4 linked regions of the Homo sapiens genome follow. The protein of the gene in region 3 purifies or fractionates together with the protein of the main gene of each other region. This does not show direct contact. Each region holds a gene or a part of one and is shown on either strand. Other genes may lie near its edges.

Region 1 (3,500 bases), on a different chromosome or scaffold from region 3:
AGAAGAAACAAAATTAGCCACGAATTGATCATGTTGAAGCCAGGTGATGGATACATGAAATTTCATTTTGCAAGTATCTCTATTTTACTATTTGTTTGAAATTCACCCAAAGTTTAACAAAATTCACATAGAAACTGCTTATTTGCTACTTAAAGAATACAAAAGTAGAATGTACACTGATGCACATATATTGTTAGAATGTACTTATGAGTGATAACCTGCAGATTGGAGACTCCATAGACAGACTCATGGCTCCTTAGAAAGAATGATTGTGGGTGGAGCAGACCCAAGGAGGAAAAGCAGAGTCCAGGCTTAGACTGCAGCTTCTCGCTTACCTGTGCAGTCTAATTTTGAGCGGCCTCTTTGTAGTTAAGAGACAGGAGCTCCCATTCTCTCTCTACTAACCCAAAAGTCTTGTGTGTACTCCTTGCCTTGGCTCAGCTCCAAACACATTTCTACACCGATAACAAGAAATATGCTGTAAATGATGTTTCCTTCTCAATCCCTGCCGCCTCTGAATTTGCTGACCTTAGTAACATCATCAATAAATTACTAAAGGACAAAAATGAGTTCCACAAACATATGGAGTTTTATTTCCTTATTAAGGGCCAGTTTCTGCGAATGTCCTTGGTCAAACACATGGAACTGGAGAACATGTCATCAGAAGTAGTTGTGGAAATAGAATATGTGAAGTACACAGCACCCCAGCCAGAGCAATGCATGTTCCATGATGACTGGATCCTTTCAGTTAAAGGGGCAAAGGAATGGATCTTGACTGGTTCTTATGATAAGACCTCTCAAATCCGGTCCTTGGAAAGAAAGTCAATAATGACAATTGTTGGACATAGGGATGTCTTAAAAGATGTGGCCTGGGCCAAAAAAAAAGATAGTTTGTCTTGCTTATTTGTGAGTGCCTCTATGGATCCAACTATTCTCTTATGGGAGTGGAATAGAGAGAAACAAAGTGAAAGCCCGACCGTGCTGCAGAGGTCATGCTGGAAGTGCAGAGTCTATAGCTGTTGATAGCTCAGGAACTAAATTTTGTAGTGGCTCCTGGGATAAGATGCTAAAGATCTGGTCTACAGTCCCTACAGAAGAAGAAGATGAAATGGAGGAATCCACAAATCGACAGAGAACACAGAGCAGCTATGACTCCCATAGTGACCCTCTCTGGTCACAAGGAAGCAATTTCCTCAGTTCTGTGGTCAGATGCTGAAGAAATCTGCAGTGCATCTTGGGACCATACAATTAGAGTGTAGGATGTTGAGTCTGACAGTCTGAAGGCAAGCTTTGACAGGAAATAAAGTGCTTAATTGTATTTCCCATTCTCCAACTTTGTAAACGTTTAGCATCTGGAAGCACAGATAGGCATACCAGACTGTGGGATCCCCGAACTAAAGACCATTCTTTGGTGTCACTGTCCCTAACTTCAAATACAGGTTGCGTGACATTAGTAAAATGGTCTCCTACCCATGAACAGCAACTGATTTCAGGATCTTTAGATAACATTGTCAAGTTGTGGGATACAAGAAGTTGTATGATCTGGCTGCTCATGAAGACAAAGTTCTGAGTGTAGACTGGATAGGGACACAGGGCTACTTTTCAGTGGACAAGCAGACAATAAATTGTATTCCTACAGATATTCACCTACCACTTTCCATGTGGGGGCATGAAAGTGAATGATAAATTGATCATAGAGATTCTTTATACAAATGAACTTGGTAGAAAATCATGAAATTATACTGATGCAGATGCAGAAAGCAGCCGTTTGAAATTTATATAATGTTTTCACTCTTCATAACAGCTAACATTTAACTATCTTTTTCTTATTTTGTATTTATAATAGTTTGTGTTTATAAAATAAAAAGAATGATTGTGACTAGCTTGTTAATCACATGTATAGCTACTATGATGTACTCTTACAGTTTATAGTTAATTAACTTACACATCTAAAATATATCTTTCTCTGGCCATTTGTCCCAATTGCATGTGAAGAATATAAGGTAATAATAAAATTTACGGAAAAAGTACTAAGTATCTGTTGCCTACCACTTTTTAGTATATGTGTATATTTATATACTTATAATTTTTATTTTCAAGTGTAGATTTTGAATAAGAACACATCTTTATAATGGGGTGTATGAAGCTATTTGCAATAATCCTGGATCTATATTTACAGACACAGACAAATATATTCATGATATGTTTTAAATGTTAAAGTAGCTAATAAAACCACCTTAGGGGATGATTTCATTTTTATGTTATATTTGTCTCTATATACTTAGAAAAAAATGTGGAAAGATAAACACTTTTTTACAGTGGTCTTTTTCTGCTTTATATTATGTGTTTTATTGGTTTTTCTTCCTTCTTTATATTTTCTGTATTTCTTTTATCCAATGAACACTACATAAATACGTATTTTTAAAAGAATTTTAATCATGTAACCTTTCTAAAGATTAAAAGAGAAGGAATAACAATATTATATCAGTATATGCGAATTTAGTGCATGATAAAAGTAATATATCAGCGGACAAAAGAGAAATTCTTCAAATCATGAGTTATAGGCAACCAATTAACTATTTGGAAGAAACCTCAAATGAATCAAAATTTTAAATATAGGAACTATAAAGATAGCTGAGAGGAATTATTTTTAAGCAAACTACCAAAGACAGAAACAATCATAAAAGGAAAACAAAAGATTTCAACATACACAGCTTTAAAACATCCATATGACAAAATACTTCATTAATAAATGGGACATTTGGGGATTTAGTTTTAATTTGAATTTTTGAAAATATATAACAAAGGGGCCTTATAAATCTATATTAAAGAGGCCACCCATGGTGGCTCACACCTGTAATCCCAGCACTTTGACAGGCCGAGGTGGGCGGATTGCCTGAGCTCAGGAGATCGAGACCAGCTTGAGCAACACGGTGAGACCATGAGAATCGCTTGAACCTGGGAGGCAGAGAATGCAGTGAGGAAGATGATGCCACTTCACTCCAACCTGGGCGACAGAGTGAGACTCTGTCTCAAAAAAAAAAAAAAAGAAAAAAAAAATCACCATTAAAGATAAATAGCCAAAAGAAGATGAATTAGAAATGCCCATGTCACCAATAAACTTATGAAATAAACGTATAAAGGTATTTGACCTTACTAGAAAATAAATTGATTTTGTTTTGTTTCTTAAATAATATTCAAATCTAGCACCTAAGATAAGCACTCTGATAAAATAATGGTGGCAGTGTACAACTGGTACAATGTTTATGAAAAGCAACTTAGAAGCACGTACTAAATGACTAATAAAAGTACATATCCTATGAATCAGCTATTTAACTTTTAAATATTTGTCTAAGAAAATAAAGATGTACAGTAAAATTTAGTTAAAAGGATCCTCATCAGAAAAATAGAAAAAAATGGAGTCCAATCTAACTATCCAACAATAAGTAACAGATTATAACTGATGGTAATTGTATATAACATAATTTTTAAAAAGCCAC
Region 2 (3,500 bases), on a different chromosome or scaffold from region 3:
AAAGAGATTAATTTTAAGAGACCCTTAGTATACATCATCCCAATAGCAGGGTAAATCAGGGCCACGATACTTAGATTTGGAATGTGCTTTTTTTCCTCTCGAATAACCCTGCTGCTCTGTTTAGACTTTGGAGCTATTTGAGGGCTAGCCTTTAGCAGTCAAATCAGATGCCTAAGATGAGTGACTAGTAGAGGAGGGCACCTTGAGGGCAGGGTCCCGCTTTAACTCTTTTGTCCCACCCTTCCCCACCCCCTTCACCCTAATCTGCATTGGGTAGACATGAGATGACCAGTAGTGTCTGGCAGGCTGCTTAGTGCCTGCTGATGCACACCAGTATTGGTGGTCCTGGGGATGCTCAGACCCCACTTGGGTGGTGTGGCAGCAGCTTTGAAACCCTGCCTCTGGCCATCTGCTGTTAGTAGGGTTGGAAGGCCAGGGTCTTGGAAGGGAAGGGAAGCTGACAAACTAGAAAAACTGATCACAGCACACAACAGTGTTCCTCCATGGATCACTGAATGAAAACCTCGGTGCCAGGAACTCCTCCAACTGAGTTAGGTTGGATTATTATTTCCACTGCATAGATGAGGAAACTAAGGTTTCGAGAATTTAGGTGACTTGCTCAACAGCTAGAGCCAGGCTTGTAATATAGGCTCACCTACTCCAAATCCTGTGCTCAGAACCACAACAACTTGCCCTGGATTAAAATAGCACCTGGCACTTGGTGTCACTAGGCCGATGGTTCTCAGCCCTGGCTGCACAGCTGAGGCACTAGATTGAGCTAGAATCTTTGGGACAGATTCTAGCTCCTTCTTGAAACTAGAATCCTTCTTGAAGCTCCTTGAGTGATTTTGATGGGCTGCCAGGGTTTCAAACCACTATACCAGGTTAAACCATTTTGACAGTAGAGACCAGCCGGGAAATGATTACCCCCATGTAACTGGCTTTTGCATATACGACCTTTCTGCTTACATTAGGGACAGGACTATTTGTTCATGTGATTCAAAATGTACCAACATCCTGTGCTAGACACTGGGGATACTGAATCAGGCAGAATGACTTCTCACGGAGAGGAAACAGCCCAGGCCAGCCTGGGACCCTGGGAATATGATCCGTTGAGTGCTTCCTACTACTTCTGGCATGTCCCAGCCCTCCTGAGCAAGCAGGGTTGCTGTCTACTCTGTCCTATAATTCCCTCTGAATCTTGGGCTCCTTTGACTGGTGCTGATATTTTTTTCCTCCAGGAGACTTAAGGGACAGGGAAAAAAGTAGAAGAATGAAAGTAGGGCATGCAGTGTTAGAGGAGAGAAGATGCAGGAATGGGGCTCGTTAATATCTGAGTAATGAGTTTGCATTGCTGGCAGGGTGAGAGTGTGTGTGTTTAGGAGGCTGGGTTCAGAACGGGTGGTGCAGTCTGCATAAGTCTAGACAAGGTCACAGAAGTTCTTAAAAGTGAAATCTGACCAGCCTCTCCCATTGCCAGAACAAAAGCACCAAATTCCATTTTTTTTTTTTTTTTTTTTTTTGAGAGAATCTCGCTCTGTTGCCCAGGCTGGAGTACAGTGGTGCGATCTTGGCTGACTGCCACATCTGCCTTCTGGGTTCAAGCGATTCTCTTGCCTCAGCCTCCCGAGTAGCTGGGATTACAGACTCGCGCCACCACAGCCAGCTAACTTTTGTATTTTTTAGTAGAGACGGGGTTTTGCCATGTTGCCCAGGCTAGTCTCACACTCCTGGCCTCAAATGATCTGCCCTCCTCGGCCTCCCAAAGTGCTGGGATTCCAGGCGTGAACCACCACACCCGGCCCCTAATTCCATTCTTGATTGCTCCATCACACTGCTTGCTCTCAGGTTTCTGCTGAATAATGCTCCTTGGTCCTCTCAACTTCCAATTCTTTGATGTATTTTGACTCCTCCCCCATCCAGCCACCCCATCCCCCCATCATGTCAAGACTGGGTTGAGGGGGGGTATCTTGGCAAGTGAAGAGGCAGAATCTAGGGTGACTAACATGACTGAATTGCAAATAGCTGTTGATGAAAAAGAGGGCACAGCACTGCAATACATCCAGATTCCCAGGTATCTCATCTGGACTCCGGTGGCTGATGGGATTCTTGATTATGGAGTGCTCCCCGCCCCAACCCTGAGGCTATCTGTGGAAAGGCAATGGGTTGAGTTTGAGTTTTCTCCATCATACCGCAGGGAGGGAGGAAGTGACTGTTGTGATTATAGCAGACGGCAGTTAGAGAAGTGACTGCTGCTTACTCCCCACAGGATGGTGAGCAGGGCTTCTCAGAGGAGGTGGGAAATTCTCCCGCGGTGGGTAGAGTGAGGAATGTTTTATGGGCCCAGAAAATCAAGAGCAGCTTCACACATACTCTCATGTCTCTTATCTTTGAGCCACTCAGTGGCTCTTGACCCAGTCAAGGGCTGCCGATGAGAATTACCTGGAGAGATTGAAAACGTAACAGATTCAGAGATCCAGATTTAGTTGGTCTCCACTGGAATGTTTTTTTAAAGTTCTCCAGATGGTTCTAATGTGCAGCTGGAGCTGAGGAACTTACTGAAGCAAATGCTTCTTCCTCCTAATTGTAGGCATAGTTGCGCTAGACCTTTGGAGGGCCTGAGACCTTCTGTTCTTCATCATAATTTTAAGTGTTCACCTACCATCTTCTGATACCACCACTACCACTCCACCCCTGTCTTTACTCCTAGCAAGACAACCTTAGCCTGTAGCTGTATTCTTATTTTACAACTGGGAAAGCAGGCCTGGAGAAGTTAAGGGACTTTCACAGTGTACCAGGTCATACCTACTGCAGAAACCAGGGTTTCTTATTCCCATTCCAGAACCTTGTCTGTAGATCTCATGCATGACTTCCAGGGTCGTGATTTTTTTGTCTGAAATATTCTAGAGAAGTGACTTCTACCCACCCTAGTTGTCATCCTCCCTATCTTCTTGGACTCTCTCTGTGATAGAAGGGAGTAATTTAGAACCTGGAATCAGGGTCGGGTGTGGTGGCTCATGCCTGTAATCCCAGCACTTTGGGGGGCCAAGGCAGGTGGATCACGAGGTCAGGAGATCGAGACCATCCTGGCTAACACAGCGAAACCCCGTCTCTACTAAAGATACAAAAAATTAGCCGGGTGCAGTGGCGGGTGCCTGTAGTCCCAGCTACTTGGGAGACTGAGGCAGGAGAATGGCATGAATCTGGGAGGTGGAGTTTGCAGTGAGCCAAGATCGCGCTACTGCACTCCAGCCTGGGCAAAAGAGCGAGACTCCATCTCAAAAAAAAAAAAAAAGAACCTGGAATCAGAAGACCTGGATTTGAATCCTGCTTCTGCCGAGGGTGTTCTTGGACCCCATCCAAGCCTTAGTTATAATAATCCCTTGTGGAGTGGGTGTGGGAATGAAACAGAACGTTCTTTGGAAACTTTAAGATGCTTGGTAAATGCTACTTCCTTGGAGCAATTATCTCATCAGCATCTGTCGGGACCCAGGTTGTAC
Region 3 (3,500 bases):
TACTGCTTTATGTAGATTGTTTATTTGAGATAACTTCCAGCAGGAGCTGATGGACTCTAAGGGGGTAGCCTGAAGCCCTCCTCTAGTACCAGACTTTGGATATAGTAATATCATGTCCCTATCTACCCTTCTCATAACTGCTTCTCTCCATTAAACATCCAGACATCATCTTACCTTTCATAGCTTCGTGTTCCTTACAGACAAGACGAGAGCAGATCTCCTTGTTGACGATGTACATACGTCGTAAACTGCAGACGTCCCAGTGTCATAGGCAAGGAAGGAGATGGAAGAAAGCCTTGAGAGGAGAACTCACCTGGGTCTGGGATGCCTCTTCAACTCTCATATTCCCCACTTTCCCTATCTGCTTTTCCCCAACTGTATTTTCTTAAGTATTTCAGACTTTTGCCCCCCAACTGGAAAATAGGGGAGGGAATGGTATTAATTACTCTTCTGTTTTTTAAATTTTATTTCAATAGTTTTTGGTGTACAGGTGGTTTTTGGTTACATGGATAAGTTCTTTAGTGGTGATTTCTGAGATTTGGGTGCACCCGTCACCCAAGCAGTGTACACCGTACCCAATGTGTAGCCTTTATCCCTCATTCCTCTCCCACTCTTTCCCCTGAGTCCCCAAAGTCCATTATATCATTCTTATGTTTTTGCCTCCTCATAGCTTAGCTCCCACTTATAAGCGAGAACATACAATATTTGGTTTTTCATTGTTTAGTTACTTCATTTAGAATAATGACCTCCAGCTCCATCCAAGTTGTTGCAAAGGCCATTGTTTTAGTTATTCTTCTTAGTGACACTTTGCACACTCTACCTAAAGTCAGGCTTAATATTCCTCCCCACTATTTTCTACCTTAGAGCTGGGCCATTCTCTTCAGTCTCCTTCTATCAGGTAATAAATTGAGCATGCCAGTATTTCCCTCATGACCCTTCTTCCTCCAGCGCCCACCTTCATTTCCCTTCTAAGTTCTATTACTCTGCCTGTTCTTTGTACACTTCAGCCCATACTCCAGGTTCTAGTTGGTACATTCAGCAATAACTAGGAGGGTTGTGCTAAAAACTTTGGCCCCATCAAAGTTTGCAATTCCATAGTGGGTGCTCATTAAATAGTTATCAACACAGAAACACTACCATGGAAGATGCTTTTTGGGCATTCTGGGATCCCTTACCTGGTGAAGCATAACTGATGAATGCATTGTTTAACCGGCCGATGCACAGAGTAGAGCCTTGTGCAGGTAAATTTCTCATCCCAGCACTCTGAGGAAGCCCAATACAAAAAAATAAGGAGGTCCAAATAGAAGCAGCATAAATGAAGGATTGAAGGAATTGGGAAGGATAGATAGAGTAGGAAAAAAATACAGAGTAATCTCTACAGAGAATCATTATAAATTGGGCTACATCCTTTCCGTCCACCAAAAACACAGCAAGAGGGAATTGACTAAATGAAGTTTTGGCGCTTCCCTACTTGGAAGTAGAAGTGGATAAAATAATCTCTGAGAGCACTTCTAGGAATAAAGTCTTTCTAGAATTGTCCGTTATGAAATATAAAATAGGCTGGGCACGGTGGCTCATGCTTGTAATTCCAGCACTTTGCGGGGACGAGGCGGGCAGATCACCTGAAGTCAGGAGTTCGAGACCAGCCTGGCCAACAAGGTAAAACCCCGTCTCTACTGAAAATACAAAAATTAGCCAGGAGTGGTGGCAGTTGCCTGTAATCTCAGCTACTCGGGAGGCTGAGGCGGGAGAATCACTTCAACCTGGGAGGCGGAGGTTGCAGTGAGCCAAGATCACGCCACTGCACTCCAGCCTGGGTGACAGAGTGAGACTCCATCTCAGAAAAATAAAATAAAATAAAACAAAATAGTAAAATAAAATAGAAATGCTGATAATCCCATTCTGAAAGAATCAGATTTCTTAGGCAGGTTGCTATTTCTCTGTTCCAGTAGTTTTCAACCCTAGCTATATATCAGAATTATCAGTACATTAGGAAATGCAATTTTAACCATGGCCTCCGTGGTAATATGGAGTCCTTGAAGTTAAATTGATTTCACTTCCCAATCCACTAACCACCACATAATGTGCAAGGGTACTTTAGGGAGAGGGCTATTTGGGGACCATGCAACATTTGTTCCATTCTTTCCCCTTGACTTTTATGACAGGTGCTCATTTTTTTAAAAAAAAGAGTAAGGGAGTGAAGAACACTAATACTCTTTGAGAAATAATTGGAAGTAAACTAGAAGATGTGCCAAGTACCCTCCAAAGAACAAGGAGGTAAGGAATCCACAGGAAGAAAAAAAGGCTTAAGAAGGCATGCAAGCAACAATCATACCTGCAGTGGTATTTTTTTCACTGAGGGAGGCTGAAAGGCAGAAATTTTATTCCACTGTTACCAATTCTAGAAGTTACTACTTCTGTAACTGCCACACTGCCTCACTTAGGACCTGCTTGGAGTGCCCATAAATAGGGAGCAAATGAATTAATAACTCTTAGCAACTTCTAAAAGAAAACCCTTATTGAGCTGATTTGCTCCACAAAATTGAAGACATTAGGAGGCAGGATGGGATTTTTTTCCTTTCTCCTTTCCTTTCTAAAGAGTTGAGAAATTCATTGTATTGTGAGTATCTCTGTATTGTTGACAAGAAGCAAATTTAGTAGGAACACAAGGCAAAGAGTTACATGCCCAGAGGAGCTTCTTCCTAGAGCTAAGCAGAGAAAAGATTATTATCCTGTACAAGCTCTTCCTTATAAGAGAAAATTTATTTTCTGTAGATTAGATACATCATCATAAATTCTCTTGATAGAAGCTGTTGGGTAAAGAATAATGAGGGTCAGCTGGGCACAATGGCTCACACCTGTAATCCCAGCACTTTGGGAGGCCAAGGCAGGTAGATTATTTGAGGTCAGGAGTTTGAGACCAGCCTGGCCAACATGGTGAAACCCCCTCTCTACTAAAAATACAAAACTTAGTTGGGTGTAGTGATGTGCACCTGTAATCCCAGCTACTCAGGAGGCTGAGGCAGGAGAATCACTTGAACCTGGGAGGCAGAGGCTGCAGTGAGCCAAGATCGTACCATTGCACTCCAGCCTAGGTGACAGAGGGAGACTCCATCTCAAAATAAATAAATAAATAAATAAATAAATAAATAAAGAATAATGAGAGTCATCCTAACCTAGGGGCAAATTTAACATGGGCCTTATTCACAGAATGAAGAACAAGCCAAGGAGTTAGATGAATAGACTAGTCAGGGGAGTTACCAGGAAAAATGTCACTGGAAGTGTTGCAAATAGAATACTAGGACCTGTGTTATGAGATCTCATCTATCCCATGGTTTCTAGGCAGGTGTATATGCTGATAATTCCCAAACCTGTATTTCCAACCTCATCTCTCTCCTAAACTCCAGACCTATAAATCCAACTGCCTTTTTATGGAAGAGTTCTTGAATATTTCAAAGATCTTTCACATTCAATGTATATCCAACAGACTTAATTATCTT
Region 4 (4,119 bases), on a different chromosome or scaffold from region 3:
GGTAGAAGGGCCCTTGGCTGATGGGGCCATAAAGTGCCCTTTCTTTGGTTTTGTGCTCTCCCTCTCTTGTGGGGCCAGTCATTTGAATCCAGAAGATATCCCAGGATGGAGCTGCCCTGAGTATTTCTGTGGCTGGTTGGAAGGCTGGCACACAACAAAGTGGGCATGCAGCAGGCTGCCTCCCTGGCTTAGGCCAAAAAAATAAAGCAACTCAGAGATGGAGAAGAGGCAGGAAATCTATGTTGTAAAAAGTCTTTGTTTAAAGGAATTCCGTTCAGGTGCTGAGAACGGGGTGTTCAGCAGAAGAGGATAATATGAGTAAACATTGGCAGTAAGAACAAACACAGCAGTATCACTGTCTGCGTCTGGCCTCCTCCTGTGCTCAGTCACAGGTCTCTCCCACCGCCCTCTATGATAGCAATCATAAACAACATGTAGAAGGGCTTTACAGTTCACAGACCTCAGTTCCCCTCAGCGGCACTTCCTTGCAGGGTTTCTTTATGCACTGGATGACCCTGGTTCCACATAAATGAAAACTGGGCTTAAAGGACACATCCATGTCCTGGGAGCTGTACAGACTTAAAGAAAAACCTAGATAGGGGCAAAAATTGGGGCAGGCGGTGGGGGTGGGGGGTGGGGGGTGGGGGGGGGGAAGAAGTGGTCGAGAGAGTCATCTAATAGGTCACCAATGTTGCTTCTGGGAGGTTGCCGGAGGGTTGGCTCCTTTCAGCCAGGTTTAGGGCCAGGTCTGGACACACTCAGGAGGCCGGTGGCTGAAGGGCAGAGGGCAGGGTGGAGGCCCAAGTGAGGCCAAGGAAGGAGTGGATGCCGCTGGGGCTGGCACTTCCTTGGCTTCTCAGCGTCCTGGCAACCAAGAAAAGATTCCAGGAGTCGACTGGTGGCACCAATGCGAGAAGCCCCGGGCGGATGAAAGAAGCTGACCCGTGCGAACCCCCCACCCCCTCCACAAAACCAGGAGATTCCTGCCCAAGAGCAAGAGATGGAATTCCCCTAACGGAGGAAGCTGCCGACCTAAGGGCTGGGACTGGCAGCGCGCCCTCTCCGGGAGCTTCAGGTCTGGGGCAGCCTGTGCAGGCGCGGGTGGAGGCCCGGGCGCGTCCCTGGGGGCGGGAGCCAGGGGCGGCCAGCAGGTGGGGCCTGGGAGCTGGACTCCGCCCCCCGCTCCCTCCCCGTTGGTCCGCTGCCGCTCAGCACCGGCCCCTCTCCCGAGCCGGAGCGCGATTGGTGGCAGCGCTTGTCGCTCGGAGGGGGCCGGGCCGCTCTGCTTCGCGGCTCTCCCCGCCGCCGCTGCCGCTGCCGCTGTTCTCCTAGCAGCGCGGGCCGGTCGGACCGCCAAGGCAGCCGGCGCTGGCGATGGGAAGCGGCGTGGCCGCCGACACAGGCAGTGGCAAAGTTTCCCAGACGTACACATCTGGACGCGCGGCTGCCGGCTACCCGTGACCCCTCTAGGAAGGGTTCAGGGATTTTTAATTTGGAAAAAAATCCACCTGGTTTCCTTTGTCAAGGTCTCTCCGGGTGGCCAGCGGCAGGAGCTGCAAACTTGGGCACGGCGGCTACACCGGCAGCGGACCGGGCTTTGGAGAACCTCGGGACTCAGGTGCTGAGGTGCCCAGCGGCTCCGGACGTGCTACGGGGTGCGAGCGCGGGGGAGTTCGGGGCGCACGACAAGGAAGGGCCCCCGGGAGCTCTATATGGAGGAAGGAGCCCAGAATGGTGTGCACCAGGAAGACCAAAACTTTGGTGTCCACTTGCGTGATCCTGAGCGGCATGACTAACATCATCTGCCTGCTCTACGTGGGCTGGGTCACCAACTACATCGCCAGCGTGTATGTGCGGGGGCAGGAGCCGGCGCCCGACAAGAAGCTGGAGGAAGACAAAGGGGACACTCTGAAGATTATTGAGCGGCTGGACCACCTGGAGAATGTCATCAAGCAGCACATTCAAGGTACGGGCGCCCCGGAAACTTGGGTCGCCCATGAGGCCCGGGAGTGCCCCGCGCGGCGCGGGGTGCGCTGGGGCTGGTGCGCATCAACTCAGCCACGGCGGGGCTCTGGGGCCGCAGATGCGTGGTAGTCGTGGGGCCTGCGTGTGAGCTCCTGCCTGCGTTCGGGACCTTCTGTCTGCGGCCGTGCGCTCTTCCCCGGGGCACACGTGTGTGCGCAGGGCTGCACGAGCGGATGTGTGCAGCTAGCTGGCGGTATGGGGGCGCGCTGCGCACGTGTCCAAATGTGCGTGTGACTCTGGGCTGGTTGCTCGCGGGCTCTCGGGATCGCACACAAGTCCGGCTCAGAGTGTGTGTGCATGTGAATGTCTGTGTGTGTACAAGAGGGAACGCGCGGGCAAACGAGCTTTTTTGGCCACTGTAGGCGTCAGGCGAGATGCCCGCGCGGCGGCCCTGACTATTGGCAGTTAAGACCCGCAGGCTGCCGGACAAGCGAGGCTAGGAAAATTGCGTTGTATCAGCCCCAGCCCCAGTCTTGCTGTGATCCCGTTGGTAGGCGATAGGGAATGCAAGGAGCCCTCTGTGGTTGAAAAGCCGCTTGAACCTATAGCAGTCCCTACCCCCACCACAGCCCGCGGGTCCAGGACCCTCTCCAGGAGCAGGTGTCAACGCCGGGAAGTAGCGCTGGAGTCTCTGTCCACTGTGGTGATGACTCCGCCCAAGACTGGAAGAACACGCCCTGGGCTGCGCCTTCCCCGCGGAGCCGCCCGGGACCGGGTGAAGGCCGATCCCTACTGTAGCTCCACTCTCAGGCCCTGGGAGCAGCCGGGGCTGAGCAGACCTGGGTTGGGTCTGAAGTGTAAGGTTACGCTGGTTGGGTGCGCTCCAGACCAGCGCGGGGGTCCAAAGGGAGGGTGGGGGTTGCAGGGCGCTCTCCCGAGGCGACCTGGTCAATGAGCTGTCATGGGAGGGAATGGAGTTCCGGGCGCCAGGAGCACTGGTGCCGGGTGTGCACACACACACACACACGCGCGCGCGCGCGCGCTCACGTCCACACTTCCTCCCCTCCCCGCGCCCCCTGCTTTCTTCCAGGTGTGTGAGCTTCTTAAGGGCAGGGCCGAGCTTGGTTCCCCTGTAAACCTAGCAGGCCCACCAGGCTCAGGGGCCAGTGCATGGCAGACCTTGGCAAAATCGAATTGAACTGAAGGCTTACCCCCCACCCCCCCGCCAGGAGCACTCCCTTTTGTTTACACGTGGATGTCTGAATTCCAATCCTTGCACCTGCTGCTCTTGCCAGAGTAGAGATGGCTCCTCCGTCTGAATTTGGTGTTTCCCCAGGTGTCCAGAATAGTTCCTTTCCAGGAGGGGAAGGTTCAGGGAGGTTCAGGTGAGTGCAGGAGAGGCATCCACATCCATAGTGCTTCCTGACTAATGACTTCAAAACAAGCCCATGGCTTCGGCACCTTCCCAGAAAAGAGGGACATTGACAGCTTCTTCTTCAGACCTGCCTCTGCCTCTCAACCTGGCACTGGGCTTGAAAACCAATTTACCTATCTGTGGGTGCCAGTTGCTGTTATTTCTTACGTGTCCTTTTCCATCCCATAGGTCTTGATTGACTATTAATCAGCAATAGAAGTACAGTGTTTCCCCCAGGGTGATTCAGAATGTTCCCCAGGAGACACAAAGCCATGCCTTACTTTGACATTTCTAGTTTGCCGACAGATTTTGAGATTTTCATTCACAGATTCTGTGTGTGTGTGTGTTCCTGGAAAATGATTCTCTTGTGCTTTTCTTTCTGGTCAGGCAGGAGGTGAGCAAGGTACTGCTTTGGGGATGCTTTCAGGGGATGCCATTAACCCCTGAGCCTGTAACGGAGTGGGTGCCAGTCATGTGGAATGTGGACCATGTCACATGATTTCTAAGGTTCCACATGGAAAAGCATGATGTTGAAGTTGAAAGGAAGCATTGTGATTTTTCTCCCCGGAAACTTTATAACTATGTGTTGTTCAGCACTTTCAAATCTATACCTGAAAAATTGGAGAAGATAGGTTAAAAAAATAGGAGACAGGGTCCCTAAAACACGTGTTGTTCCACTTGTACACGTGCAATGACCCCTGTGGGTATTCAGAAATAACCACAATCTCGACAGAGGGCCA

Evidence for each region.
Region 1: the proteins of MFAP5 (region 3) and MANBA purify together in Homo sapiens (affinity purification with mass spectrometry; one large-scale study listed by BioGRID and IntAct). This does not show direct contact.
Region 2: the proteins of MFAP5 (region 3) and MOCS1 purify together in Homo sapiens (affinity purification with mass spectrometry; one large-scale study listed by BioGRID and IntAct). This does not show direct contact.
Region 4: the proteins of MFAP5 (region 3) and GALNT18 purify together in Homo sapiens (affinity purification with mass spectrometry; one large-scale study listed by BioGRID and IntAct). This does not show direct contact.

What each region holds. Positions count from the first base shown.
Region 1 is NC_000004.12:102,750,969-102,754,468, forward strand, and holds part of MANBA (beta-mannosidase precursor), read right to left. Parts: intron 1,868-3,500; exon of another isoform or gene 279-1,867; intron 1-278.
Region 2 is NC_000006.12:39,927,963-39,931,462, reverse strand, and holds part of MOCS1 (molybdenum cofactor biosynthesis protein 1), read left to right. Parts: intron 1-3,500. UniProt on the Homo sapiens protein: Isoform MOCS1A and isoform MOCS1B probably form a complex that catalyzes the conversion of 5'-GTP to cyclic pyranopterin monophosphate (cPMP).
Region 3 is NC_000012.12:8,649,327-8,652,826, forward strand, and holds part of MFAP5 (microfibrillar-associated protein 5 isoform a precursor), read right to left. Parts: intron 2,366-3,500; coding exon 2,336-2,365; intron 1,264-2,335; coding exon 1,176-1,263; intron 249-1,175; coding exon 175-248; intron 1-174. UniProt on the Homo sapiens protein: May play a role in hematopoiesis. In the cardiovascular system, could regulate growth factors or participate in cell signaling in maintaining large vessel integrity. Component of the elastin-associated microfibrils.
Region 4 is NC_000011.10:11,619,206-11,623,324, reverse strand, and holds the start of GALNT18 (polypeptide N-acetylgalactosaminyltransferase 18), read left to right. Parts: upstream 1-1,319; 5' UTR 1,320-1,731; coding exon 1,732-1,966; intron 1,967-4,119. UniProt on the Homo sapiens protein: Catalyzes the initial reaction in O-linked oligosaccharide biosynthesis, the transfer of an N-acetyl-D-galactosamine (GalNAc) residue from UDP-GalNAc to a serine or threonine residue on the protein receptor.